4 linked regions of the Homo sapiens genome follow. The protein of the gene in region 1 purifies or fractionates together with the protein of each later gene. This does not show direct contact. Each region holds a gene or a part of one and is shown on either strand. Other genes may lie near its edges.

Region 1 (8,058 bases):
GAGTCAAAGCAAGTTATAAGGCATCTTGTTAGGGGACCATAAATGTTTAGACATGAAGAATCTATTTTATTCACTATTCTTTTCATTTCAGCACACCAAAGAAAATTGAGCTGGCAAAAGATGAATCTTTCACAAGCAGTGATGATAATGAAAATGTAGATTTAGATAAAAGACTTCAATATTATAGATATCCGTGGTCAACTGTGCATCACCCTGCAAGGAGACCAATATCCATCTCCAGAGACTGGCATGGATATAAGAAGAAGAACCATACTATTAGTGTAGGAAAAGACATTAATTGTGACGTGATGATTCACAGAGACGACAAGAAAGAAGTGAGGGCCCCTTCTCCATACTGGATAATGGTGAAGCAAGACAATGAAAGCTCTTCCTCCTCTACCTCCTCTACCTCAGATGCATTTTGGCTGGAAGATTGTGCCCAAGTTGAAGAGGGTAAAGCCCAACTGGTATCAAAGGTTGGTTAGCAAATCTGTGGTCATATGAGCATTTATCTTGCAGACACCCAAGTTTTGTGCCTCACCAGGCACAAGTTTGCTGTACTTATCAAGGACTGTCTGTAGACTCACCAATTCTCTTCTCTTATGACTGCGTTATAAAGCCTTTAGAGATGTTCTTCAACAGGATTATCTAAAGACTTCCTTGGGTTCTTGCAGGCCTCACAAATCTTATTTTCAGAATAAGACCCTCCTTTTTGAGAAGAATTTCTTTCTTTTAGAAAATGCCGTAGAGAAATCCAATATCAGAATGTCTGAACATAGTAGAGAATGTCACTTTATGTAAACACTACATTTTTCTTTAAATATTTAGTTTCTCTCTTTTTTTTGGTAAACTTCAAGTACTATAATTAAAATAACTAAGAGACATAATTCTTTGGCTAGTTATTCACATTAGAATTCTTTTTTTTTCCCCTTTTTAGCCCTTCTTTTACTGTAAATGTTGAATTGAGAGTTAATTATTTGGAAGAGACAGGATAGTAACAGATAAGGGAGAGACAGGAGATGAGAGAAAAACAAAACTCTGTCAATGAAGATAAATCAGACATAAAAAAATGAATGAATGGGAATATAGGATATGATTGATAGGAAATGTATGTTTTTTGGAAATAATTTTATTGCAAAAAAGGCAAAACAGGGGTAAAAACCAGACCATTTAGCTGTTGACACCCAAAATGACAAATTTTGAACTTGCTTTCATCTTAAACGCCACCAATAGTAATCTGGCACTATTTACCCCGATAGCCACTTAGCCTTAATTTTAATAGTTTCTGATGCTTCTATACTCAATAATTATATTCCTGTCTCCTTTAAAGCATCTAAAACAAAGATATCAGCACATAATAAATACTTGTTGATTAACTCATTGAGAAAAACGTAAGAAAAACACTTAAACAGAATGTTTTATTGACTTTAGGTCAGCTGGGAATAATTACCTGCATTTATGCCTTATTTTACCTCACTGGAAAAAAGACAAATGATATATTAGAGACTTCTGACTTTCATGTGTTTGCTGCTCTGGGCTGAGAGAACGTTCAGCTCTCTCCTGTAATGTGTGCATCAGTATTACAACTCATCAACAAAAGGTGTATGTCCCAAATTTCCACTTGCTGCCATTGACTTCTGGCCAGAAACAAACTTCTTTGCCGCCTTTAAAGAAACAAACAAAAGACAAAATTAACAAAAATAAAAATATATATCATCAAGCAGGCGAACTTATTTTGTCATTTCAAGAATTTATGGATAGGACATTCTTTTTTTTTTTTTTTTTTTTGAGGTGGAGTCTCGCTCTGTCACCCAGTGTGGAGTGCAGTGCTGCGATCTTGGCTCACTGCAGCCTCCGCCTCCCAGGTTCAAGCAATTCTCTGCCTCACCCTCCCAAGGAGCTGGGATTACAGGCATGTATCACTATGCCCAGCTAATTTTTGTATTTTTAGTAGAGACGGGATTTCGCCATGTTGGCCAGGCTGGTCTCAAACTCCTAGCCTCAAGTGATCCACTCACCTTAACCTCCCAAAGTGCTGGGATTACAGGCGTGAGCCACCAACCTGGCCTTCGATAGGACATTCTAAGCCAGCAATTACTATAATAGCTGTTGTGAAAATTAACTAGGAGATGGCTGGTGCTTTAATTTGGGACAGTGTGGGAGGAAAAGCTTAGCTGTTTCTCTGAAAGTCCCATTGTATGTGTAATGAACCAAGCAAGAGCAACACTGGTAAGAGGGTAGCTGTTCAAAGAGAGATAAGGAAAACAACACTGACACTGTCAAATAGAGTAGTGTGGCTTCAGGCAGGGATATACTTTCCTGTTTCGGTATTACAATGGCAAATAGTCTGGGTCAATAAAAATACATTGATTGTTAACTTAAAAGTAAAACTTGATACCCTAGAGGATTCTTTATGCCACTACTTCCAAGTTCAAAGGCTGGTTAAGTGTAGTATCATGAGTCAGGTGTAGGTGGAGCAGCAGCCCCCATATTCTGTCAGGCCAGCTTATCTTATTACTATGAAGGAGAGGTGGTGGTGGAAGCAGTCGGGTTGGGACGCACATAATGATAGGATATAAGATGAAGACAGCCATTTAAAAGAGTACCAAATGGGCTGGGCGCGTTGATTCACACCTGTAATCCCAGCACTTTGGAAGGCTGAGGCGGGTGGATCACGAGGTCAGGAGATCGAGACCATCCTGGCTAACATGGTAAAACCCCGTCTCTACTAAAAATACAAAAAATTAGCCGGCCGTGGTGGTGGGCACCTGTAGTCCCAGTTACTAGGAAGGCTGAGGCAGGAAAATGGCGTGAACCCGGGAGGCGGAGGTTGTACTGAGCCGAGATCGCGCCACTGCACTCCAGCCTGGGCAACAGAGCAAGACTCCGTCTCAAAAAAAAAAAAAAGAAGAGTATGAAATGACGATTGGGGCGAAGTGAAATCAAGTCAGGGTTACTATCTTAAAATAGCCTTGTCTCTTTTTTATTTGAGACAGGGTCTCACTCTGTTGCCCAGCCTGGAGTACAGTGGCATGATCTCGGCTCGCTGCAACCTCTGCCTCCCAGGCTCAAGCCACCTTCCCACCTCAGCCCCATGAGCTCCTGAGTAGCTGGGACTACAGGCGCATGCCACCAAGCCTAGCTAATTTTTGTACTTTTTTGTAGAGATGGGGTTTTGCTACATTGCCCAGTCTGGTATTGAACTCCTGGGCTCAAGCAATCTGCCCACCTCAGCCTTCCAAAGTGCTGGGATTACAGGAATGAGCCACTGCACCCAGCTTAGTTTTTTATTTTTTCTTATCCCCACTGTCCCTATACAAGGTAGACCTGTTGGTGAGAAGATGGCCGAGACATCTACAGTAGAAAGCAAGTTGGCAAGTTTAATGTAGAAAATGGGGAAAACCCACTTACTTTGGATTAATTCTGTAGGTCATGTGCTTGTTAGGCACAGCAGGGAACACAAAGAAGTACATGACATAGTCCTTGCCCTCAAAACAGCTCAATATTGTAGGGAACAATAATATATGTGAAAAAAAAATTAGCAAGAACAAGAGAATGTCCTAGGCTGAGAAGAGTAAAGAAAATCTTAAGATGCTAGATGGTGAAATATTGCTAGGACTGAAGAGGAAAAATAGCAAACTTCACTATTTAGGTTGGATCATATGAAACTGCTAATATTTGACTCTTCTTTACTTCTAGTCATCTAACATAAGCCCATTTTATAAACTACCATTAGTTTAACCTAACGTTTGATACGTTAGGTGTATTAAATGCACTTTTGACTGCCATCTCAGTGGATGGCAGCCCTCTTACTGACATCACAGTTTAACCTAATGGTAGTTTATTTGAAGGAGGAAGATACATATACTCGAGCTGACAGGGAAGCTTGTTGCGGATCTTATGGGAATGAGCCCTCCTGCCTCCACATTAAGTAGATGAGCACCAAACATAAGAATAATACACTGCCCAAGGACGCTTATGCATCCTTCTGAAATTGGATCATTAAGGTTAAGTTCTCTGTTGTTAAATCGTTAAGTTTTCATTTACTTACATTTATGATATCAGCATTAGCCACTGAATCAATCTGCTGAAGGACTGTGGATGGTGGCATGTAAGAACCAGCAACTAGAGCCTGGGACCCGACTTCTTCCAGGAAACACTCAGAAGACTCCACTGACATTAGGTATCCAGCTTTCAGCTTGTTCCTGTCCAATAAAAGGCAGAAGTCAGTTTTAGAGAGCAAGGCAATTATTTTTTTTTTCTGAGTGGTGGCGGGGGGCTGTGAACATCAAAGCTTTATTTAATGGATAGAGTAACAGCGTGTCTCCCTCTTCCTGAATTCCCCAAGAAGAATGCCACTCCCTTCTCTGGAACATACTAAAACAGTAAGTCTGAAGGGAAGAAGTCTCTTCAGGGTTGCCAAAGTGTCCAATTGAGGGCCCACTTTGGCCTCCATTTGTGGGTCCATATGCTGCTACAGATTTGAGTGAGACAGCTGGAGAGCTCCCTAATGCTTCCCAAGGCCTCTGGATCCGGTTGTGCAATCTGGATCCTCTGCATGTCACTGGCCAGTCGCAGCATGCTCTTTCTCCTGCCCACTGGCACAGTGAGGAAGATCTCTCTGCTGTCAGTGAGAAGGCTGTCATCCACTGAGATGGCAGTCAAAAGTGCATTTAATACACCTAACGTATCGAACATCATAGCTTGGCCCAGGTTATCTCATATGTGCTCAGAACACTTACAATAGCCTGCAGCTGGGCAAAAGTCTTCTAACATAAGCCCATTTTGTAAGGAAGCATTGATTATCTCATGTACTGCATATCACTAGCCTAGGAAAAGATCGAAATTCAAGGTATAGTCATGTACTACATAATGATGTTTTTGGTCAATGATGGACCACATATATGATGGTGGTCCCGTTAAGATTATTAGGGAGCTGAAAGATTCCTATTACTTACTGACAACATAATGTTGTAGTGCAATTTTAAAAAAATAAATTTAGCGTAGCCTATGTTTACAGTGTTTAGTATCTACAGCAGTGCACAGTAATGTCCCAGCCCTTCCCATTTACTCACCACTCACTCACTGACTCACTCGAAAGCAGGAGCTATGCCATAAAAATGGCATACCATTTTTTTATCTTTTGTGCTGTATTTTTACTGTACCTTTCCTATGTTTAGATGCACAAATACTTACCTTTGTGTTATAACTGCCTACAGTATTCAGTACTATAGTACATGCTATACAGGTTTGTAGCCTAAGAGCAATAGACTATACCATAGAGCCCATGTGTGTAGTAGGCTATACCATCTAGATTTGTCTGAACACTGAGGTTCACACAGTGATGAAACCACCTAACACCACATTTCTCAGAATGTATCCCCATCGTTATGTGACCCATGACTGGAAGCTGAAATTGCGATGGTTTTCCTCCATAGTCAAGTTGAAAAATTATAATTGATCCATGGCAAGTTGGGGACAGTGTATATTGTAAACCTACCTTTTGGCTGCTACAGTGTGAAGACCAGGGATCTTGAAGAGCCTTCTGTCAAACCAGGGTGTCAGGCCTGTACTTGGTGTCACCACAGACAACTCCACCTGGCCCACAGCTGGGGTCACAGTGTTATAAAGGTCACAGTCTTGACCTTTTCCTTTTGCCTTTTCCTTGTATGAAGTGGGTTCTCTTCTTGGATGGAGGATACCGTTCAATGCTTGTAGTTTGAAGATTCTCATGTTTATTTTCTTCTTATGCTATCGTTTCACTTGTATTACCTGTGAGTTTTGGCAGGTTTCGGGGGTGTCTGAAGAGCTTCTGCTGTCTGTTTATTTCTGTGATATCCACTTCAGCTGTTGCTGCCTCTTTTAGGGCCTGTTTGTTTTCACCAAGGGTGAAGTAGTCAAGCCAGTTCCTCTTACACAGTGAAACAGGGCAATTTTAAGGTATGTGCCCCGAAACTCAACATATTTTTGGTAAACAGGCAAACTAACAACTTACAGTGCTAATGGCCTCCATTCTATTTCTTCAGTTCACCAAGTACGTGAACCGTTTACGTTACTATTTGGAAAGCTGTCAGTACGAAATTATACTGAAAACTCCACAGATTGCTTTTTGATTTGGGACTAGAACTTAGATCTAGGTAAAACTATTTTAATGTAAGGTTTTGATTAGTGAAGCAACTCCTGCCTCTTGCTGAGATTTGTCTGTGAGCATAGGGTATGATGGAAAAGGCAGGTGGGGAAGGGCAGTACAGGTCTTGTAAGCAACGGCAGCTTAAATATGGGCACAAAAGCATCCACTTGAAATAAAACAAAATCCAATTCACAATTCTCCCAGAAACTTATTACTTATAGACATGGTGTTTGATAAGACAGTCGAGTTATTTGAACCTCAAACGTTTATCATCCTTTAACACTCTACAGAAAGACTTCCATTTAAACATAATTACAATTTAATGCTGCAGTTTTACCACGTTGTCAGCTTAATTAAAAAATGATTTTACCTGCAATAAACTACCAAGAGGTTATTAGTGTGTCCTTTCGGCAATGACACCTCACTTTCTCTCTTTCACTACAGGAAGAACTTACAAGAAAAAGTATCAACTCCATCAAAATGGCAGAAAACATACTTTGACATTAATATTCAAAATTCTACTTTCTGCTTATTACCATACCTTGTAAGAACTGTGTTACACTTATTAAGAAAATACGTTTTCTTAAATAAATTAGATTTGAAAAACTTAGGTTTTTCTTAAGTAAATCCAGTGTTTCAATGTATTCTCATCATGTTTTGTTTCTGGTACAATCAAGCAGCCCTGCATCCTATCGATTCTTGGTTCTATGTATACAATATTTAATAAATTGTGTTGTACTTATACAAGAGATGCAACTTTGTAGTGTGCTCAGCATAACAAAACTAACAATACTAATGGGAACAGAAATGACCAAAAGGTTGTTCCATCCTGGGTTGTAATTCTGCTTCCCCTGTGGGCAATACTAAATGATCATAACGACCACTGGAGTTGCAAGATTCACATTTTGAATTGTTCTAAGTAGATGGAGTCAAACTTAAATGTCTTAAGCGGCTGTATGAAAATGCAGGTTGATTTCCAACTTTGTCCCAAGTCTGTCTCTTTTAGAGAAACCCTCGAACTACTAATGAATTAGGAGTGTTGATAGCACTTTCAATCTGGACAGTGGGGATTTATAAATTGCCAAATAGCAGACAAGTATTTTAGTCTTTCTTATAAAACAAAACAAAATCAGATCTTTTTTGGGTATAAATTAGTTATGAAGAAAGAAACTATTGTAGAATAGGTACTCTTATATACTGGTGGTATGATTATAAACTGGTACAATCTCTTTAGATTTGTGACTTAGAAATACATTTTTTTTTTTTAAGAGACAGGGTCTTGCTCTGTTGCCCAGGCTAGTGTGCAATGGCGTGATCTTAGTTCACTGCAGCCTCAAACTCGTGGGCTCAAGCAATCCCCCCTCTTCAGCCTCCTGAGTAGCTGAGGCTACAGGCACACACTACCACACCTGGCTAGTTTTAAATATCTTTTTGTAAAGACAGTGTCTTGCCACATTACCCAGGCTGGTTGAACTCCTGGCCTCAAGTGATCCTCCTGCCCCAGCCTCCCAAAGTCCTGGGATTACAGGTATGAGCAACTGCGCCTAGTCAAATGTATTATTTAAACATACACACATACACACACTCTAACATGGAGTCTTTCGTTATGTTTATAACTCTTAACTTAGTTGGGAATCTACACCAAGAAAGTAATACGAAACACAAAAATATTTTAAGCCCAAAGATATCTTTATAACTGCAGAAAATGCACAAGTGTATTTTGACACACCAATGAATATTGTTTAAATTTTTAGTAATTTGAATCAATGGAAACAGAATCATTGCTAGGGAAATCAGAGATCATTTTTGTCTTTTATTTGTAATTTTCAAACTTCTATAATAAGGATGCTATTTAAATAAGATAAAAAAGTATACAGATGGTCCCTAACTTAACTTATGATGGTTTGACTTATGTTTGTTTGGCTGGA
Region 2 (8,258 bases), on another chromosome or scaffold:
ATAAATAAAGAATGAGAAAAATAACCATTAGAATACCACATAATACTTGCTGCGAGATCTACAAATGAATGCTAAAATTAGGTGAAATGCTAAGAAGAAACAGAATATTTGCATAGTCTCAGAGAATCTCCCCCAAAATATTTATCAATTACTATGATGATTTCGACATACGTCCGCAAAGTCTGTGTTATTCCTGCCACTGGAAGGTGGAACTTAATTCTCCCCTCAGAATGTGGGCTAGACTTAGTGACTCACTTCTAACAAATTGAGATAAGAAAGGAAAAAATAGTAACTTTATAGTGGAGTAAACTGGCAGACATCACTTGACCCAAATCATCACTTTAACATCACTGGTAGTAAGTCATGTTGATATCATGTGCCCCCTGATACGAAGCTAAGAGAAATACAGTTTACCTCTGTGATATTCTTCCCCTAAATCCATAACCCCAGTCTTCAAAAGTGTCAAGGTCATGAAAGACAAGGAAGACTGAGAAACTGTCACAAATTGGAGGAGACTGAGGAGGCATGACAACTAAATGCAACATGGTATCTTGGATTGAATCTTGGAACAGAAAAAGGACATTAGTGGAACAACTGGTGAGACTCAGATAGGTAGTAGCTTAGTGAATAGTATTGTGCCAATGTTCATTTCTTAGTTTTAATAAGTATATCATGGTTATGTAAGATGTCAGTATTAGAAAAAGCAGGGGAAGGCTGGGCGCGGTGACTCACGTCTGTAATCCCAGCACTTTGGGAGGCCAAGGCGGGCAAATCACCTGAGGTCAGGAGTTCAGGACCAGCGTGGCCAACATGGTGAAATCCCATCTCTACTAAAAATACAAAAAAATCAGCTGGGCGTGGTGGTGGGTGCCCGTAATCCCAGCTATTCGGGAAGCTGAGGCAGGAGAATTGCTTGAACCCTGGAGGTGGAGGTTGCAGTGAGCTGAGATTGCGCCATTGCACTTCAGCCTGGGCAACAAGAGCGAACCTCCGTCTTAAAAAAAAAAAAAAAACAGCAGGGGGAAAGAGGAACTCTGCTCTCTTTTTCCAATTCTTATTTATGTATTTACACAGGGTCTTGCTCTGCTGCCCAGACTGGAGTGCAGTGGTGTGATCCTAGCAGCCTCAAATTCATGGCCTTAAGCAGTCTTCTCACCTCAGCCTCCCAAGTAGCTAGGACTACAGATCCATGCCACCACGCCTGGCTAATTTTTAATATTTTTTGTAAGAGACAAGGTCTTGCTTGCTCTGTTACCCAGGCTGGTCTTGAACTCCTGGCCTCAAGTAGTCATATCACCTCAGCCTCCCAAAATGTTGGGATTCTAGGTGTGAGCCACCATGCTTGGCCTCTTTCCAATTCTTTGGTAAATCTCAAGTTACTTAAAAGCAAAAAGTTTCTTCAAAAGTCCTAATACATCACCTGTAGCCCTGTAGGCATTACAAAATAAATAAATAATATACTTTTAAAATAAAATGTTTAAAGGAAAAGAGACCTCAAAGGTGGGGCTTCACTTTAAAGAAAATTTAGCATATGTTATACTGAACATTAAGGTGTTGGACAACATTTTTGTTCGATTCTTAGCAAGCTCAGGAGGAGTTAAGGCTTGCTAGACTTTTAAGGATGACAAATAGCGAAGTCACACTATTTCTTCATTTGAAATGATGGACTGCCTTGGATAGTAAAGTTAAGTGTGTTTGTAGCAGCATGTGTTTGATGATCTCTGGGTATTTCAAATAGAATGAAAATTTTTCATTGAAGCTCTAGGGTTTTGGTTTAAATTACTGGTTTTCGTTCCCCAGATATAAAGACCTGATGCCACATGATTTGGCTAGAGCAGCGCTTACGTAAGTAAATGCAGTTTCATTTCCGTTCTTATTTCATTAAAGGCACTTTCTCCAGTTTTTACACATAAAATAGCAATTTGTTCTTATTTTAGCCATCTGTACTATACAAATTTAAGCAGCTTATGAATATTGTCAATCTTTATTTTGCAGGCCTAACAGTGTCTTAGCCTGACAGTATACTTTAATGCTACCTTAGCTAGCCACAGGACTCGATTGATCAGCCTAAACACAATACATATATTTGATGATTGCCTTAGGAACTTGTATAAGGGTAGCTGAACAGATTATGTAGATATTTACCTAGAAAGAAGCCTAAAAGACACCTGAAGATTCATGTGCAAACCAAGTAAAAATGTAAAATTAGATGTAGTTAAATAAGATTAGGCTGGATGAATAATTTGGTTGAGAATCATTAAATGTGTTGCTGTTTCATAACATGTAAGGCATTATCTCTTCATTTTCCACTGACACTTTGCCTTTGTGTCTTCAACCAGCCACAGTTCTTTCTTAGTTTGGAGAAACCCTTCAGTTGACCTTTCTGTCCATTCTAACTCTATGTTTGTTTTTTTTTTCTTCCTGCAATACCTCAAGCATGAGTGAAAGAGCAGTTGTTTCTGTTTCCTTATTATTAGTTTCCTCTGTCTAATTGTATAATCATTATTTCCATTTTCCCTTTGTTTTACAGAAACCATACTTTAGAATCTTCTCTTAATAATGGTTTTATGATTGCTCAATGTACTGATCCTTTCTCAGTCCTCTGTCTCTGTACTTTATAGCACTTGACACTGTAAGCTATAATCACCTCTCTTCTGTTGACTTCTTAGTAATATGCCTTTATGATTTTTCTTTTTCTTCTGTATCCTGACTGATTCTTCTGTAGCTTTTTTTTTTTTTTTTTTGAGACGGAGTCTCGCTCTGTCACCCAGGCTGGAGTGCAGTGGCGTGATTTCGGCTCACTGCAAGCTCTGCCTGCCGGGTTCACGCCATTCTCCTGCCTCAGCCTCCCGAGTACCTGGGACTACAGGCGCCTGCCACCATGCCCGGCTAATTTTTTTTTTCTTTTTTTTTTTTGTATTTTTAGTAGAGACGGGGTTTCACTGTGTTAGCCAGGATGGTGTCGATCTCCTGACCTCGTGATCCGCCCTCCTCGGCCTCCCAAAGTGCTGGGCTTACAGGTGTGAGCCACTGCGCCCGGCCGATTCTTCTCTAGCTTAAAAAAAAAAAACTGGGCCAAGCACGGTGGCTCACTCCTGTAATCCCAGCACTTTGGGAGGCTGAGGTGGGCAGATCACCTGAGGTCGGGAGTTCAAGACCAGCCTGACCAACATGGAGAAACCCCATCTCTACTAAAAATACAAAATTAGCTGGGCGTAGTAGCACATGCCTGTAATGCCAGCTACTTGGAAGGCTGAGGCAGGAGAATCCCTTGAACCTGGGAGGCAGAGGTTGCAGTGAGCCGAGATCACGCCATTGCACTCCAGCCTGGGCAACAAGAGCAAAACTCCGTCTCAAAAAATAAAAATAAAAAACCACACACACACACAACTGGATCTCTCCCTCTTTCTCTTTTTGAAAGGTGTTTTGCAAGTTTCATTCCTTAGAGCTTTGCATTTCTCTGTATGCATATTTTCCTTTAAAAATCTCATCTACTAGCTAGGCATGGTGTCTTACACCTATAATCCCAGCACTTTAGGAAACCAAGGCAGGAGGATCAAGGTAGGAGGATCTTTTGAGCCCAGGAGTTTGAGACCAGCCTAAGCAACATAGTAAGACTCCATCTCTACAAAAAAAAATTTTAAAAATTAGCCAACCAAGAGAATTCAGCTCAGGAGTTGAAGGTTGCAGTGAGCTATGATTCCACTACTAGACTCCAGGCAGGGCAATCGAGCAAGACTTTGTCTCAAAAAAAAAATTTTTTTTAAATTTTTAATTTATTTTTTTCTGTATGGAGTCTCACTCTGTCCAAGGCTGGAGTGCAGTTGCTTGATCATAGCTCACTGCAACCTCGAAGCCTCCCAGGTAACTGGGACTATAGGCGTAAGCCAATGTTTCTAACCCTCTTTTTAGTTTTTTTAATTGATAAAAAACTACAGATTTTACAGATTTTTATTTATTTATTTCATTGTAGCCAAGTTTAGTCATTACTCATTTTGAAGCTCAGCTTATTCCACATTTTATCTGGCACTCCTTCAAGTTGGCTCCTGTGTGCCTTTTGTTTTTTAGTATAATGCTGGTTGTTGATATATAATTTGCATGCAATAAAGTGCACAGATTTTAAGTGTATAGTTTGATGAGTTTTGACAAATGTATATACCCCGTGTTCCTGTTTTTGATATGGTCCCATTTGTCTTTTTTTTTTTTTTTTGACACAGAGTTTCGCTCTTGTTGCGCAAATTGGAGTGCAGTGGCACGATCTCGGCTCACTGCAGCCTCCGCCTCCCAGGTTCAAGCAATTCTCCTGCCTCAGCCTTCCGAGTAGCTGGAATTACAGGCACATGCCACCAGTCTTGGCTAATTTTTTTTGTATTTTTAGTAGAGACGGGGTTTTGCTGTGTTAGCCAGGCTGGTCTCGAACTCCTGTCCTCAAGTGATCCGCCTGCCTCGGCCTCCCAAAGTGCTAGGATTACAGGCTTAAACCACTGTGCCCGGCTGATATGGTCCCATTTGTCTTTGAGTGCTTCCTTACTTTTGGCACAAAAAAGATGGAAATTCACTTTGTACTTTCTTCTGGACCTGGTATCAGTCATTTCTTAAAAAACCTTTTGTCCTTTTAATGGGGAATGGCATTTAGAAACCAAATCTGGGGCCGGGTATAGTGGCTTACACCTATAATCCCAGCACTTTGGGAGGCCAAGGCTGGTGGATCACTTGCAGTCAGGAGTCCGAGACCAGCCTGGCTAACATGGTGAACCCTGTTTCTACTAAAAATACAAAAATAAGCCAGGCATCATGGCAGGCGCTTGTAGCCCCAGCTACTCAGGAGGCTGAGGTGAGAGAACCACTTAAACCCAGGAGGTGGAGGTTGCAGTGAGCCGAGATTGTGCCAGTACACTCCATCCAGCCTGGGTGAAAGGGCAAGATTCTTATCTCAAAAAAAAAAAAAGGAAACCAAGTCTGGGTTCAGGGAGTGCTCATTCCTACTGGAGTGTTATTGTGTCTAGTTTCTATTCATGGGCACAACTAGAATATATGTATTATTTCAATCATTTGTTGATACTGATATTTCAAACTAAAATTTAACATACCCAGGACTTCTTTTTTTTTAATTTTTTTTAATAGTCTTAAGGGAGACTTTGCTTTATCTCTTTGATTGAATATTTGTCTCTCTTTTTCACTGCAAACTTTGGTTTCTACTAACATTAATTAACATTAATTTATAGGTTTCTTATCTATTTTATTCTATTCCAAATTATTTTTTATTCTCTAACTTCTCATTACCAATTCAGCATCAAATGTTGACTTTTAAAATCACTCTTTCATTCATTTCTTCTTTGAGAAGGTGCCAAATGCTTGTCAAATTAAAGAAAAGATACAGTCTCTGTCCTTTTAAATTCAAGGCTAACCTTTTTCAAGGAGCGCAGTGTTTTGTGTGATGATCTCTGGCACTGCCTTGATGTGTGAAATGTTTCTTTGCTTTGGATTTCTACTTCCAGGGGTTTGTTGCATCGGACCAGTGTCCCTAAGGAAGTAGTTGATTATATCATCTTTGGTACAGTTATTCAGGAAGTGAAAACAAGCAATGTGGCTAGAGAGGTGAGTAAAACAAACTTTATGTTGTTTAAAGAGTGATAGGAGAATCACTTTGAATTTCAATTAATAGAAGTTACTTTACAAAAGCCTTTAAAATCTATTGAGTTACATTTGACCTAAAATGTGATTTTACAGCTTGGGTAATGTGTTATTTAATATGTAAAAGAATTCTAATATAAATCAAATGACATACACTATATTAGTGTATATCCATACTTTACTGTAAATCAAATAAATTATTTGAGCTGGTTTAGGACATTGTCTCTTGTGTTAGGAAAATAGAGATCAGCAAAGTGTGGCTGATAGTATTTTTAGTAATGTTAGATATCATGGCTTCCAATTAATTTAAAATTTCAACATGTTGCAGAGAACTAATTTCATAACTTGACTTTTGTTAGCTGGAAGTAGCCTTGCTTACTCATTTGTTCCCATCAACTAGATGGCACGTAAGGCAGCTTGGCTTTTTAAAAACTATTTCACAGGAGTTTACTTTTGCCCTAGTTGGCATAGCTCCATGTAGTGTCGATTGGGCAACCAAGATAATGACAGGCCTTGGAACTTCTAGGATGTGTCCTACAGGCAAATCCAAACACGTCTTCTGGGCTGTGTTTTCATTTAAAATCGATTGGATGAAGTTGGCACCAAAAGCACATTTCATTGTACTCAGTATTTTCCCTAGTTCTGGTCTGTGCTTGCCATATTGTTGGGTTCAGTATCACTGTCAACTGAGAGACAAGGGCACATGAGCAGGACTGAAAGTATTTGTTCTGTTCCACCTCTGTACCTGGCAGAAATGTTAGAACTGCCAAAGGCCTGGCATGACTGAAGCCTACGAAACTAACTGTGTGCTGTTGAGGGGCAGGAAGGAATTAACAATAGGAAGAGATTTTATTTCCCTTCTGAAATTTTTTGTTTTTCCTTGAACCTTGACATTTCTGAATGTTTCAAATATGATAATTTCATGAGTACATCAAGCTGCTCATAATACATTTTCAACTTTTATATTCTGAAAATAACCTATTACTTTTATAAGAGCACTTAAGATGTAAATAGTAAATTTTTTTGCTGTTTTCTCCTCTTGCTCAGCTTTTTATCCCATCCTTTCTTCCTTCTCCTCCTCCTCAAAAAATAAAAAAATAAATAAATAAAAATAAATGTTTCCATTTTCTCTGTAATTCAGTTCTTTTTTTCCTAAAACTAAAGCCATAATGTTTTCCTCTGAAATTTTTCCTGGAAATTTTACATCCATTTGCAGATCTCAGCTATTGATTGACAGGAGGTAGATTCCCTCTGCCTGCCCTGTACTAATACCAGTTATGTTGTGCTCCAGGTAATTTTTGCAGCATCTGCAGGGAGAGATTGGGTTGAGGGGGATACATTATGAGAATGTCACTCTAAAGCTGTATTGCAACCTAAAAGCTAACATAATTTCCAGCCAAAGAATTTCTTAGGCCCTATTGCCTGTATTAATAATGTTAATATACAGTCCTTGCAACCTAAAAGCTAACATAATTTTCAGCCAAAGAGTTTCTTAGGCCCTATTGCCTGTATTAATAATGTTAATATACAGTCCTAAAAGGCTCCTGGTGTTCATGAACCTGACTTTGTTGAAAGGTTCAGCATATTTCCCTGTTCTCCAGCTTAAAGACATCTTCCTCCTTTTCCCTTAGTGCCCTGAGAGCTATTCAAATTTCAATAGAAGTGTGTGGACAAGGGTCACCAATAGCCACCTCTATTTAAAGCTCCTTCCGTCCTGAGAGTCATCTAGGGCCAAGGGCAACACAAATTAGAAAGGCCCTTGTGAGAATCGAGCCATTGCAACCTAAGTGCCCCTTTTACACTTGCCCTTTGCAGAGCTCTTCCCTCCTGCCCCCCTGAGATACTTGCGTCTCTCTTCCTTTCGGATTGGTTTACGTTGAGAGGCTGATGCACAGGTGCCTGGCAGAAGTTCTCAACAAAGCAGGTTGGGCATTTAGTATCAGGCCTACCTGGAAAGACCAGAATGAGGTCATGTTGCAGTTACATCACTAACACATTTCTGTTTCTATAGATTATGGTAAATAGCATAAAAGTAAGTAAGTATAAAGGTAAAAATCAGTTAAGAGACATTGAATTTCTAATTGAGACTTTGGAAACATTTATTTTACTAAATTATAGGAGAGTGTGTTCTGAGGATAATTAATAGTTTCAGGGAAAGAATACTAAAAATGAATTCCCTATAATGGGATCCAGTATTTCATAGTAAATATTGTGTGGGTGTGTATGTGGGAGGAAATCTGGAAGCTTTATTTCTAAAGTAAAACTTTAATATTATAAAAATAAGTATTTTATAATTGCACCTGTGCATTAATTATTTACATAAACAAAAATGGAATCAGACGTTGATTGGTTTTTGACAGCATAATTTCCCCCAATAAATAGTATAATAAAATTATAGATGTGCTCATTTCATGTTTGACTTTCACTGTGCCATTATAATAGAGGCCATTTTTAAAAGATTAATAATGACCTCAGTTTTTCTTAAAGCCGCTCAGATGACAAATTATTCTCTTTGTATCACGTATTATGCCATCATCCTGGCCACTTGTTAGTTGGTCTGACCCTTATTTGTTCACAGACTCACTTGTAACTCAGGCAATTCTCCAGTTTCTTTCATTGAGTTG
Region 3 (7,000 bases), on another chromosome or scaffold:
GTCAGTTGAGATACTGAGGATTTGGTAGATAAATAGGGGGTTCACTGCATGATCTTCTTTACTATCAAATATGCATAAATCTTCCTTAAGTTAAAAATTCTTTTAGATAGCCTCAACTCAGGATAAGACAGCATGATCATAAAAAAGTTAAGAGAAAGAATGTAATTACAAGTTAAAATAGAAACTTCTTTCCCATTTCCAGCTCTTTACAACTTTATTTCCAAGATGAATTCATAATCAAACAAGTATAAAAGCATCTAAAAACACAATATAAATTCTTTTTAAACTGTCATATCTCATCTCTTTTCCATTAAGAAGACTAATTAAGGATGGATTACATAAATTTCTGAAGGAAAAATGTCTTCATGCTTTTGAAAAGATAAGAATGGTGATTAAGTATCTTGAAAATGGAGGTTCTCAGCTGCTTTTCCTGCTTCAACATCGTTCGGATTCTCAAAACACCATCATGAGTCATATCCATGACCACAAGGCCAGCTCTCCACTGCACTGCCCCTCACCCGCCCCCGCTGCAGTCCTAAAATGCCACACTACAAGGTCATAGGATGAAATTAAGCCCTTACATCTAACGCACGGTTTCCAAGTTCTTCTGATGGTATACTTAACAACTGGGAACATTTCAGAATATTTTAAAAGTTAACATGGTCACGTATAATGGCTAACAAATACACAGACTCGACACCAAACCACATAGGTCCAAACAGAGGCTCTTCATCCTTTTATATGTGATCTTAGGCAAGTTACTTAACTTCTGTGTGCTTCAGTTTTTCTCACTGGAAAGCAGGGATTCTAACAGTCCCTACCTGTACTACCTACACGGGTTGTTATCATTACGTGTCAAGTGGATGTAGATGAAAAATAAGTACATGGCAAGTGCTCAGATAGGCTTGACATCACTGTAAGCTCTAAATGTAAGTCATCAGTAGTCTTCCTTGTGTGAAACAGTTCTTCCTAATTTGTGAATTACACTCTTCCCTTACCTAAAGATCCCAATCCATATATTCGAGCTGGTTTCAGCTCTCTCTCAGCTCGGGCATATTTTGCTGCCGCTACCATTTTCATAGACTTGGTAATTTTCTGGATGTTTTTGATGGACTTTAGTCTCCTGGTGACTGAAAAATAGAAGTACTGTGTTAAGACAAAGGAATTACAGTATAACTTCCTTGTGAATTTATTGACATATTTTTCTGAAGTGCAAGGCAGAATAATGAGCGCTTAGATAAACAATAAACAGCACGATGCTAAACCAGTCTTAATATTAGAACTAGTACTAATAGCCGGGCACGGTGGCTCACGCCTGTAATCCCAGCACTTTGGGAGGCTGAGGTGGGCGGATCACGAGGTCAGGAGATCAAGACCATCTTGGCTAACACGGTGAAACCCCGTCTCCACTAAAAATACAAAAAATTAGCCGAGCGTGGTGGCGGGCGCCTGTAGTCCCAGCTACTCGGGAGGCTGAGGCAGGAGAACGGCGTGAACCCGGGAGGCGGAGCTTGCAGTGAGCCGAGATGGCGCCACTGCACTCCAGCCTGGGTGATAGAATGAGGCTCCATCTCCAAAAAAAAAAAATAGAAATAGTACTAATAAAAGGAAGGCAAAACTAGCTACTACTTAGGACAAGCAAATGGCAACATAAGACAATAATATACATTTAAAACATTAAATGGTATTGAAAGTTGCCTTAACCACATATTCCATAACATTATTTATATATAACATGATTTACCCCTTCCCACACATACACCCACCTACACCAACACTGGTATAATTTTTTCTAGTTATATCATGATCATTCTACAAACAACAGAACATAGCTGTCTCAGGTGTCCTTTCTTACTGGTCTTTTCAGAACAAGTCCAATGTCCCAAACATACAATGGAAATCCATTTGGTCAGTTTTGATCAAATACACAATGGGCTAAAGCAGTATATTTTTGAAAGTATTTGTATTTGTCAAAATTTAGTTTTTCTCAATTCACATATTGAGACAAACAACATACTTACTATCTTTCAAAGTTGCCATATTTCGAACTTGAATCCTGAGGATAAAAGTTTTAAAAATGTTTCAGTTTTTTGAAAAATAGTTCCATTATACAAGAAAAACTTTCAGTTAATATATATTTATTTAAAGAATACCCCATAAAGAAACAATCTATCAAATACAGGACTCAGAATGTATATGAATAGACATATATTTAAATCCCTTAGTAGTGGCGCAAATCCCTGTATTGAAGGCCTCCTTTTATTTGGCCTGTCTGTACCACCACCTTCCCAGAAGTCAACATGCTCTATTGACTCACACATGCTCTAGTCCCACCTCCATATCTTTGCTTATCTTGTTTCCATGACAGAAAAGCCCCTCCCCTTGTTAAGCTGCCCAACTATACTTCGAATCAAGGCCAGCCACTCTAAAAATTTCCTTAGTTCACAGCAACCTCTTCCAGTAACAGAGTCAATGATATAGTCGAACATGACTACACGTGTAAAAGTAGTTTATATAAACTGATTCTTAACTTTTTCAATTTAGCTCAATAAACATTTACCAAGATGCTCTAAATTCCAGGCACTGGTAAACACGACATGGTCTCTGACATATTGTTACCTTGTAAACAAGGTTCATAAAAAATTACATTTACATAACATTTAGTATTTTTTTTCAAGTCTTTAAAATTGAAATGCTAATGTGCAGAAGTCAAAATGATTAGGCTTAAATGAAATGTTGGTGAAAGATGAATATGAGAGAATTCCTGGCCTAATGGGGGAAGACATGCTAAAAAATATTAGATGATCTTTCTGCCTTCAAATCCATACAAAGTGCCTGTGTTTGCAGGCAAAGCTACACAGGAGAACTGAGCATGATGAAATGTGTGCACAAAGTAGAGATGTGAGGAGGGGATTCTCGGGAACAGAATGTCATTTTAAGAGCATTCATGATCAGGAAAGAGTGAGAAATGGAGAAGGGGAAACTGGACACATGAGTTGGGTTTGTTACTTTAAATAATTAATATTTTTAAATATCAAAAAAAGCAAATTGGTTTAAATCTTATTTGTAGGTTAATAGGGAAATGAATGTTTATAAGCCCACAAATCAGTTTAGTATTTCAGCAAAGTATCTCACATGGCAGTGACAAGCGTAAAATGAGGTTGGAGTTTTGATGAACACAGAAGACATGGGGATGTAGGCTGCCACAGCCTCAGGAGAGACCTCAAGAACCTGGATGAAGATGCTGGCAAAGCAATAGGAGACTAGATTTGCAAGCATTTAACTTCTTCACATGTACATTCGTAGTAGAAAGGAAAGCAGTAAGAATGATCTAAGGTTTCTCTAATTGAATGACCTTGGTGGACAGTGACTAATATCTCTCATGAGCATAGGTTAGAGGCAAAAATCCTCAACAGTGTATTAGCAAATCAAATCCAACAATGTATTAAAAATAATTATACACCATCACTACGTGGGATTTACTCCAGGTATGCAAAGCTGGTTCAATATTAAAAAATCAAATAATATAATCTATTACGTCAACAGGTTAAAGAAAAAATCATACAATCAATAGGTGCAGAAAAAGCATCCAACAAAATCTAACACCCAGTCATGAAAAAGTCTCTCAGCAAACTAGGAATAGAGAACTTCCTCAACCTGCTAAAAAAAAAAAAAACAACACACAAAATCTCTGATTTAATGGGAGAGGCTAGGAGCTTTCCCCATAAGATTGCGAACAAGACAAGGAAATCCCCACTCATCACTCTTCTTCAGTATCATACTGGAAGTCTTAGCTAATGCAGTAAGACAAGAAAATAAGAGGCATAGAAATTTGAAGGGAAGGAATAAAACTGTTTTTGTTCATAGATGACATGATTATCTATGTAGAAAATCCCAAAGAATAAAAATAGCCCCTCCTAGAACCAATAAGCATTTATGACAAGGTTGCAGGATATAAGGTTAGTGTATATAAAAAGCTAGTTGCATTCCTCTGCAGCAGCCCTGAACTACTGGAGTATGAAGTTAAAAATGCCCGCACACAATTGTATGGTTAAAATGATAAACTTCATGTTCCATGTGTTTTACAATTTTAAAAATCCATTAGAATCTCAGCAAGTTTGATTTTAGTTGATATCTATTTTGTGGATATCAATAAACTGATTTTCAAGGTTATATAGGAAGGCCAAAGACCTAGAAAAGTCAAACAATATTGTCAGGACTGACACTACCTGACGTTAAGACCTCCTCTAAAGTTACAGTAATAAAAAAGCAAAAGCAATTCAAGGAAAAAAGGATATTCTTTTCAACAAACAAATGGCACTGGAACAACTGGACACTAATATGCAAAAATATTAATCTGTACAATGACTTTACAAATTTAATAAAAATTAACTTAAAATGAATCACAGGCCTAAATATAAAATGCCAAACCATAAAACTTCTACAAGATACCACAGGAGACAATCCAGGTGCCTTGGGTTTGGCAATGAGTTTTTAAACACAACACCAAAAGCATGATCCATGACAGAAAAAAATGAGTTGGGCTTTATTGAAATTTAGAACTTCTGTCCTGTGAAAAATACTGTGAAGAGAATGAAAAGTCAATCCACAGGCTGGGAGAAAATATTTCTAAAACTCATCTCTGATAAAGGACTTGTATCCAAAACAAACAACTCTTAAAATGCAATAAGAGAACAAACAACCCAAATAAAAAAAATGGGCAAAAGATCTGGAAACTTCACCAAAGAAGATCAACAGATGGCAGGGCCAGGTGCGGTGGCTCACGCCTATAATCCCAGCACTTTGGGAGGCCGAGGCAGGCGGATCACGAGGTCAGGAGTTCCGAGACCAGCCTGACCAACATGGTGAAACCCCGTCTCTACTAAAAATACAAAAAATTAGCCAGGCGTGCTGGTGGGCACCTGTAATCCCAGCTACTCAGGAGGCTGAGGCAGAAGAATCGCTTGAACCCAGGAGGTGGAGGTTGTGGTGAGCAGAGATCGTGCCATTGCATTCCACCTGGATGACAGAGCAAGACTCTGTCTCAAAAAACAAAAACAAAAACCAACCAGATGGCAAAAAGCACATAAGATGATGCTCAGTATCATGTCATTAGAGAACTGCAAGTTAAAACAGTAAGATATCACTACACACCTGCAAGAATGGATAAAACCCAAGAAACTGACCAGCAAATGATGATGAGGATGTGGAGCAAAAGGAACTCTCATTGATGGCTGGCAGAATGTAAAATAGTACACAGCCACTTGGGAAGATGTTCTGGTAGCTTTTTACAAACCTAAACCTAGTCTTAACTTACCCAACTGAGATGAAATGTTATGTCCACATAAAACCTACACAAGAGCATGTAAAGCAGCTTCATTCATGATGCCAAAAGTTGGAAGCAACCCAGATGTCCTTCAATACATGAATGGATAATCTAACTCTGATACATCCATACAATGGACTATTATTCACCAAAACCACAAAGGAGCTATTAAGTTATAAAAAGGCATGGAGAAACCTTAAGTGCATACTGCTAAGGGAGAGAAGGCCATCTGAAAAAAAGCAAATACTGTATGATTCTGGCTATGTGACATGCCAGAAAAGCCGAGGATCTAGCAATAGTTGAGAGAAGTGGTTGTCAGGGTTTTGGGGAGAGTAGAGGAGGGATTTTTAGGGCAGTGAAGCTCTTTGGCATGATATTGTAATGGTGGATACATGTCATTATGCATTTGTCCAAATCCGTGGAACTGTATAACAAAAAGAGTGGATCTTTGTTTTTTGCGGTTTGAAGACAGGGTCTCACTCCCCTCACCCAGGCTATAGTGCAGTGGTGTGATCATGGCTTCCTGCAGTCTCAACTTCCTGGGCTCAGGTGATTCTCCCACTACAGCACGAAAAATATTAGGTTTGGTTTTAAGAATGAATCTACTAAAGGAAAAGATAAAAGCTGGCAAATCCTGACAAGCTCTGTTATTTCAGAGCACAAACTACCTGCCATGACTGTTCTACTACAACAGCTTTTCATAATCACACTTGAAAAGTAATACCAGTTTTTGGTCAACCTTCCTTTTTTGGTGTAGTAATGACTTTTCTCCCTGAACACAAAATTTATTGGTTATAACAAGTCACTCTTGGATATTATTGTTTTAGGCAGACACTTCAACTGACACAAGTTTCTAGTCAGAGAATACCATATGGTATAAATTTGAATTGAATACCATATTTGGACAAACACAGAATGTTTTGGTTTCCTTAAGTACTCCAAGTCAGAGGTATGAAGAGGTAGCATCTTTTGTGATAATGCTACGCATTTGCCCTAATTTCATGTGTTTTAAAGCACTCTCATGTTTAGCTTTCATTTAATTCTGAAGACGTCTATGTTACTACTTTAATTGTTAGGTACAATTTGAGTAAGAACAGTGATGAGCTAATTGAACTCTCTTTAGGGATAGCTTCCTTTATTAAATATAAAAGTTTTGCAAATGAGGAGATAAAGCTCTGAATCATTGCACGTCCTGAGATCCTCGGGAGACTAAGAAACACAGTGGAGGGAGAATCAAATGGACCGTGGATTACCACTATCTACCATGATTCCACAGCGCTGTTATAACAGCTGACGAAGGCAGTGGAGGAGGGAGTCAGGAATGACACCCTTCCAAGAAACTATTGTTTGAGAGATTTTTAAGGAGTATATTAAGATACATAAAAACTTAAAAAGCAAGCAATATTGGCTAATTCTCAACGAAAATTATGAAGTGACTCTAATTCTGATATTAAGCGTGTAAAAGTCCATTACCTGCCACCAGCAAAAACTGACTCCTTCACACTTACCTAACCCACACCCATGACTGCATCATCTTTTTTTTTTTGTTTTTGAGATGGAGTCTCACTGTGTCGCCAGGCTGAAATGCAGTGGCACGATCTCAGCTCACTGCAACCTCCGCCTCCCGGGTTCAAGCAATTCTCCTGCCTCAGCCTCCCGAGTAGCTGGGACTAC
Region 4 (7,221 bases), on another chromosome or scaffold:
GGGAGGAAGGTGTGGGAAAGCCGTGGGGTCTAAGCCCCAGCCCACTCACCCATTTGGCCTCCCAGGTAGAGGGGCAGGGTGGGTTCTGGAAGCTACATACTAGACCCCAAGCACTGTGCCAGGCATTTCATATCTGCCGTCCCTGCAAGCCAGAATATGGTCCCTTGTTGACTCATGAAGCAAGCAAGCGCAGAGAGGCTAAGTGACTTGCCCCAAGTCACACAGCTAGTGAGTGGGTGAATCACACCTCAAACCCAGATCGCTGATTTCAGAATCTATGTTGTTAAGCTGTGGTGTTCTGCCTCCCTGAGACCCAGCAGGTGTTTGGTTTTGGTACGGAAGGAGAGAGCCTACATTTATTGAGCATCTACCGTATGCAGCTACTTCCCCCATAGTCCTTACAGGCACAAGGATCACAAGTTCCTTCCCAGGCTGCAGAGCCAGGCCAGGCTAGGGGGCGCTCCAGGACAACCCAGGAAAGGAGGAAGGATGCAGGGGGTTCCCTGGGGCTCACCGAGCTTTCTCCTTCCTGGGCCACCAGGATGGGCACCTTTCTGTAGGAGGAGAACTTGATCTCAGCCCTGCGCACAGGGTTCACCTCCACCACCTGGTAGGGCAGGGCATGGAAGTCGAGGAAGGCTCGGACCTTGCTGCAGAAGGGACACGTCTTGTACTGGTACAGGGTCAGCTGCAGGCGGCTGGACAGGGAGAGCTGCGGGCAGCAGACGGAAAAGGCTTCTAGACCTGGCACCCCCAGGCCCAGGCCCTGCCCCCAAGGGTGTTTTCCAGAGGAGTCTTCTGAAATGACGCTAGAACATCGGGAAGAGGAACTAGAGATGGAAGGGGGCGGTAGGGGAAAGGGAGGCACTGGACAGCAGCCCAGGTTTAAGCCCCTGGCCAGCACGGTCCCCAAGCAGGAGTCCCACCCTTTGCTGCGAGGTTGTGTAGGAGGAATCTTCTAGTCTCTGTCCCATACTGGACAGACCCCTCTTTTCTCACTCCAGTCCCAAGGGGACACCAGACAGCCCCAGGGTATACACCCCACTCCCACAGACATGGAACAACTGTTTCAACTTGACTTGTTCACTCTCACTCCTCTAACCCCAGGGACCTCTGGGGGCAGAGCTGGGCTACCACCCAGGCTCATGTTCACCAGTGGGGTCTACCTCCAATCTCTTTCTTGTTTTTTTCTCTGGAGACAGGGTCTCACTCTGCCATCCAAGCTGGAGTGCAGTAGCTTGATCACAGCTCACTGCAGCCTTGAACTCCGGGGTTCATGTGATCCTCCAGCCAAAGTCTATCTCAAATATCCGAGGGGGAGGGTGGTATCTGAGCCAAGGCCTGCGTGTGGCAAGCTCCGCAGGAAAGCCCCCAGGGGAGCCTGCTGCACGTTCATGCCGGGAAGCCACAACTGTAGACCATCCCCCTGTGTTCAGAGGGGAAGCTGGACCGTGGAGGCAGGAAGGGAGACACAGAGTACTCCATGCCCTTTTTACCCACCTCTGTTCCCTCTGGTCCAGCAAATAAGCATCTGTGGGCGGGTGGTGGGAAGTCAAGTAATGAAGAGTTGCAAGGTGTGGGGTAGGTATAAAGTGTCTCAAGGCAGCTGGGCCACCACTTAGGGGGTCACCACTTGGGGGGGGCACCTTTCTACCTCTTCCTGTTTCAGCCTGGAGTCTAAGTCATCAGTTCCATAAAGGTACCACCACTACTACTAAATAAATACACAGCCTTAGGATTTGGGGGCAGTGGGGAGAGAGGATGATGAACGTTTGGAAAGTGAAAAAGGCTTTCCCTTTCCTGTGATCTCCCATCTCTTAATCAAAAAAGTCTTAAAACACGGTAGAGGCTGGGCTCCGTGGCTCACACCTGTAATCCCAGCACTTTGGGAGGCCGAGGCGGGTGGCTCATTTGAGGTCAGGAGTTCGAGACCAGCTTGGCCAACATGGTGAGACCCCCGTCTCTAGTAAAAATACAAAAATTAGCCGGGCTGGGTGGCAGGCGCCTGTAATCCCAGCTACTGGGGAGGCTGAGGCAGGAGAATTGCTTGAACCCAGGAGGCGGAGGTTGCAGTGAACCGAGATCGCGCCACTGCACTCCAGCCTGGGCAACAGAGCAAAAAAAAACTCCGTCTCAAAAAAAAAAAGTCTCCTTAAAACATGGTAAAGGCTGGGCGCAGTGGCTCACGCCTGTGATCCCAGCACTTTCAGAGGCCAAGGTGGGCGGATCACTTGAGGCCAGGAGTTCGAGACCAGCCTGGGCGACATGGTGAAACCCTATCTCTACAAAAAATACAAAAATTAGCAGGGCGCAGTGGGGTGAGCCTATAGTCCCAGCTACTCGGGAGGCTGAGGCAGGAGGATCCCTTCAACCTGGGAGGCAGAGGCTGCAGTGAGCCGCGATCGCACTCCAGCCTGGGCGATAATGCGAGACCCTGTCTCGAAAACATAAATAAACAAACCAAAAAAAAAAAAAAAAAAAAAACCACGGTAGAAGAACGATTTTATGAGAACTCGAACAATTCCAGGTAGTAGGCATCAGGAGTGCCCCTATTTTACACAAAAGAATACAGAGGGTTCGGAGACTTCAGACCAAGTCACTCGCCCAAGGTCACAAGCAGGCAGAGGCAACTCCTGACCCTGCGGGTTCCCAGGAGTCCCGAGTTCGGCGCTGATCAGCATCCCCATCCCCGGCCGGGCCAGGCCTTACCTGCGCGGCTGAGCGCTCTGCGTGGAGGTCCTGGGCGCGCAGGTGCCACCGCGCCGTGTGGTACAGCCCCAGGGCTCCCCCCAGGGCCAGCGCCGCAGCTCCCAGCAGCCGCGGGCTCCCCTTACGAGCTGCAGCCACGGGGCTCGGGCCGCCCGCCGCCCCCGCGAAGCCAGCCCGGCTCTGCGTGGGTAGCAGCGGCTGGGGGCGGCCTCCCAGCCTCCAGGCCAAGGCGCACCCACCAGGCCACAGCGCCCGCACCACCCGCGCAGCCGGGTCCATGTTCGCTCCGCCGGCGCCGCGGGCGGGCGCGCGAAACGAAGACGCCGAGGCACGCGCGGCGTTTAAAGGGCCAGGACTCTGGCGCCCCGCGGGTTGGCCGGGGTGAGGGCGACGCTAAGGGAACCCTCAGCGCTCTCGGGACTGGGCGTGTGCCCGGCGCCCAAGTTCGAAACGCCCGCCAGAGCCGCAGAGGCCCGCTCGGGAACGTTTGCAGACCGTTCCATGCTTCCGCCTCCAAAGGCTCTTGGGTAGTGACCCGGCCGACTGCAGGGGGGCGAACGTCTCCTCGCCCCACCTTGACCGCCTAAAGGGCGGCGTGGCCGTCTGTAACACGTACTTGCCCACCTCTCTTACGGGCGCCCATTCAAAACAACTCCAGCCCTTCCTAGAGTCAGTACAGGCGCCGCGACTTCCGGCCACTGAAAGCCCCGGAAACGACCCGACCCGGCACCAGGTGTTGCGGTTCTCTCTGCCCTCCCGCCTCATTGTCCGCTTCCTACTGTGACCCGAACCATAAAATTTTCCCGAACCCGAAGGGGCCTTGGAAACCACGTGTCTCTGATTTCGCCCACGCGAAGCGGCCGGCCCGCCGACCCCGAGATTTCCAGGGAGAGGATGGCAAAGTGGGGTGCCAGGCTGCTCGGTCCTTCTGCTGGGCTCCCCCGCCCTAGCTGAAGCCCGGAGCCTCCACCGCATAGGCGTCTCCGCGGACAGCCCCGGGATGGCCCCGCCCGGCGCCCGAGAGGGGGCGGGACTCGCAGAGTGGGCGGGGAGAGGGGCGGGGCGAGGGGGGAGCTCTGAGTCCCGGCTCTGCTGCTCCGCCGCGTCCCACTCTTCTCGCTCCGCTTTCGCCCCGCATCTTCCACCTTCCTTCCAGTCCTTGCGGCGACCGAGCCCGCAGTGTCAGTCCCCAGCGGGGACCTGAGTATGCCGGTGAAGACGAGAGCGGAAGGCGAGGACGACGGCTTCGGGGAAGCGGGTGACCCGAGGAGACTGCTGGAGCGACCTTGGCGTTTCCGGGGGTGCCTTCCCGGGAAGGGGAATCGGGATGTTGGCTTCGAAGGGACCGAAGGGCCCACCTCGACCCGCCCCGAGTGGGTTTGGAGTTGTAGGTGCTGTCTCGGATGCAGGGCGAGCACCCGCGAGCGGGTAACCAGTCCCGTGAGAGCTGCAGGTCCCCAGCCCCGTTTTACAGATAGGGAAACTGAGGCAGCTGCTGGGACACTCGCCCATATGGGTTTTGCTCCACCCACTTCCTTCAGCCACTTTACAGACCAGGAGTTGAGGGACTGCTCGAGCTTAGAGTGTTTAGGGGTGGTTGAGGGTGACCCCCATGTTCTGTGCTCTACTCTATCCCTATCCAGGCCTTCTCCCAGCGCCACTCTCACGCTCCTGCTTGCTAGCTCCTGCTTGCTAGCTCCTGCTCCTCCCAGCTTCATCCTCCTCCTGTTTACATTAATTGCTCCTGATCTTCCACACTCTTGATTTTCCGGATTCTAACTCCATCAAAATGTAACTTGATGTGTTCAGGCCCCGGGGACACCTAGGCACTTGAGGGGGGCGGGTCCGTGTTTGGCCTGCTGGGCTTAGTAGGAGGGTCTGGCCCGGGGCGGGGAGCGCGATGCTCTGCTGGGTCAGCATCTCCAGCCACCTGGCTTTGCTGGTGTGGCCTCGCAGCCTTGCCAAATGTGAGCAGCTTACAGAGCAACCAGTTGCACGTGCTTAAGCTGCCGAGGTGACACAGGGCGCTGTAGGGTCCAGCCCCACAGGGTCGGTAGGTCTCTCCCTGTGTGCGGCGACGAGAGAGTGTAGAAATAAAGACACAAGACAAAGAGACGAGAAAAGGCAGCTGGGCCCGGGGGACCACTACCACCAATGCGCGGAGACCGGTAGTGGCCCCGAATGTCTGGCTGCACTGTTATTTATTGGATACAAGGCAGAAGGGGCAGGGTAAAGAATGTCAGTCACCTCCAATGATAGGTAAGGTCACGTGGGTCACGTGTCCACTGGACAGGGGGCCCTTCCCTGCCTGGCAGCGGAGGCAGAGAGGGAGAGGAGACAAAGAGAAAGACAGCTTACGCCATTATTTCTGCATATCAGGGACTATTAGTATTTTCACTAATTGACTACTGCTATCTGGAAGGCAGAGCCAGGTGTACAGGATGGAACATGAAGGCGGACTAGGAGCGTGACCACTGAAGCACAGCATCACAGGGAGACAGGCCTCCAGATAACTGCGGGCGAGCCTGACTGATGTCAGGCCCTCCACAAGAGGTGGAGGAGCAGAGTCTTCTCTAAACTCCCCCGGGGAAAGGGAGACCCCCACCCTCCCTTTCCCGGTCTGCTAAGTAGCAGGTGTTGTTCCTTGACACCTTTTGCTACTGCTGGACCATGATCCGCCTGGTAACGGGCGTCTTCCCAGATGCTGGCGTCACCGCTAGACCAAGGAGCCCTCTGGTGGCCCTGTGTGGGCATAACAGAAGGCTCGCACTCTTGTCTTCTGGTCACACCTCACTATGTCCCCTCAGCTCCTATCTCTGTATGGCCTGGTTTTTCCTAGGCTATGATTATAGAGCGAGGATTATCATAATATTGGAATAAAAAGTAATTGCTACAAACTAATGATTAATGATAGTCATATATAATCATATCTAAGATCTATATCTGGTATAACTATTCTTGTTTTATATTTTATTATACTGGAAGAGCTCGTGTCCTCTGTCTCTTGCCTCGGTGCCTGGGTGGCTTGCCGCCCACACACAAAAAAGATAAATGTTTGAGGTGATGAAGATCTTAATTTCCTTGATTTGATCATTACATGTTTCATACAGGTATCAAAGTATCACATGTACCCCCAAAGTATGTACAACTATGATATATCATAAATAAATGAATAAATAAATAATAAAAGACAGAAGCCTGACCATGCTATGTTCAATCCACAGCTACGCCCCTCACTGTGCACCTGATCTCCCCATCTCACGCCAGTTCCTGAGAGACAGGACAGAGAACAGGGGCAGGGCTGCCCTGCCCTAACCACTGGTCTTCAGTTAGTTATCCTGGCAATACTTCCAAGGTGCCCTGCCCTGGTGCCCCCCACACTTGAGATAGCCCCGTCCTATCCCCCCACCCTGCAGGTGGGTCTGTGCAGAGGTGAGGTCACTGCTCCAAACCTCAATGGAGGGCACTGGGGCAGGTGTGCGCCATCCGTCACTGCACCCAAGGCCGTACACCATGCAAGCAGTCCTTCTCCCTTTTCCACGTGGAGGCTTGTGCATCTGGGGACAGATTTCAGAATTTAGGATACCCTAGTCCCCTCTTCAGGGCTTTGTCACCCACCTTTCATGTCCATAAAGCAGCAGAGCTTCTGTGGCCATGTCTCAGTACGTTTGATCCAGCATCAGCAAAGAAAGCCCAGTCTTTTGAAAGCCAGTGGTTGCAGTAGGCACATCCTCTCCAAGCCTATGCTCCCCAAGGTAGAGGTTAGCTATTTCTTGCCAAGTATGAATGCTGATTTCCAATGGCCATTAGGGAATAGAACCCCCCACCCCAGGGAAGCAAAGCCACCCTCTTCCTCCTCCCCCTCACTCAGCTCCCATTATTGGCCTGCCTAAGGAGCACCTCTGGGCTCTCCTAAAAGAAGAAAAGCCACTGTGTCCTTGCAAGTCGCACCTTTGTCCCTTAGTTCCACGAAAAGCTGCTACATGCCTACAGTGTGCCAAGCACTGGGGCTCTCCCTGTGGCACCTCGTTACACGCTAGAAGGCAGGTGCTGTTCAGAAATTTCTGATGCTGTTGGTGTCCTGCACTCAAGATGCTTCCCAAAGCCAGATTCCACTCACCGGCAGCCTCGCTGGGAGCACAGAGGGTTTCCTGATGCTCACACTCCACAGAGAAACAGGTGGAGACGTGTCCATCAGGGCGAGAAGGTGGCCATTGGGAATAGGAAGGACATTCCCCCTGAGCCATGGCACAAGGGGAGGCAGCCATGGGGAGAGGACAGAGCAGGGAGAGCAAGAAGGAACCTGGGAAGGAAGGTCTCTTGGGTCCCTGGAAGCTCCAGGCTGGGCCACAGGGATCAAGGGGCACTCACTGGCCAGAGCTGAGAAACATCTGCTCCAGTCTCTGGATGCCTGCCTGTCCACCGCCAGCTGCTGGTGAGATGTTCTTGTTTGAGGGTAGATTTTATCTGCATAAGCTCCCCAGTGGTGAGGGTCCCAGGAAATGAGTGCTA

The links.
Region 2: the proteins of UQCRC2 (region 1) and HADHB fractionate together in Homo sapiens (co-fractionation; 2 studies listed by BioGRID). This does not show direct contact.
Region 3: the proteins of UQCRC2 (region 1) and ATP5F1C fractionate together in Homo sapiens (co-fractionation; 2 studies listed by BioGRID). This does not show direct contact.
Region 4: the proteins of UQCRC2 (region 1) and PTGES2 purify together in Homo sapiens (affinity purification with mass spectrometry; 2 studies listed by BioGRID and IntAct, with this or other methods). This does not show direct contact.

What each region holds. Positions count from the first base shown.
Region 1 is NC_000016.10:21,976,694-21,984,751, reverse strand, and holds the end of UQCRC2 (cytochrome b-c1 complex subunit 2, mitochondrial precursor), read right to left. Parts: intron 4,206-8,058; coding exon 4,052-4,205; intron 1,665-4,051; coding exon 1,581-1,664; 3' UTR 1,092-1,580; downstream 1-1,091. Other genes in the region: PDZD9 (PDZ domain-containing protein 9), read left to right, coding at 92-485. UniProt on the Homo sapiens protein: Component of the ubiquinol-cytochrome c oxidoreductase, a multisubunit transmembrane complex that is part of the mitochondrial electron transport chain which drives oxidative phosphorylation.
Region 2 is NC_000002.12:26,268,153-26,276,410, forward strand, and holds part of HADHB (trifunctional enzyme subunit beta, mitochondrial isoform 1 precursor), read left to right. Parts: intron 1-1,800; coding exon 1,801-1,845; intron 1,846-5,498; coding exon 5,499-5,598; intron 5,599-8,258. UniProt on the Homo sapiens protein: Mitochondrial trifunctional enzyme catalyzes the last three of the four reactions of the mitochondrial beta-oxidation pathway.
Region 3 is NC_000010.11:7,791,177-7,798,176, reverse strand, and holds part of ATP5F1C (ATP synthase F(1) complex subunit gamma, mitochondrial isoform L (liver) precursor), read right to left. Parts: intron 2,057-7,000; coding exon 2,022-2,056; intron 1,131-2,021; coding exon 999-1,130; intron 1-998.
Region 4 is NC_000009.12:128,124,730-128,131,950, forward strand, and holds the start of PTGES2 (prostaglandin E synthase 2), read right to left. Parts: upstream 3,001-7,221; 5' UTR 2,989-3,000; coding exon 2,710-2,988; intron 713-2,709; coding exon 515-712; intron 143-514; exon of another isoform or gene 50-142; intron 1-49. UniProt on the Homo sapiens protein: Isomerase that catalyzes the conversion of PGH2 into the more stable prostaglandin E2 (PGE2) (in vitro). The biological function and the GSH-dependent property of PTGES2 is still under debate.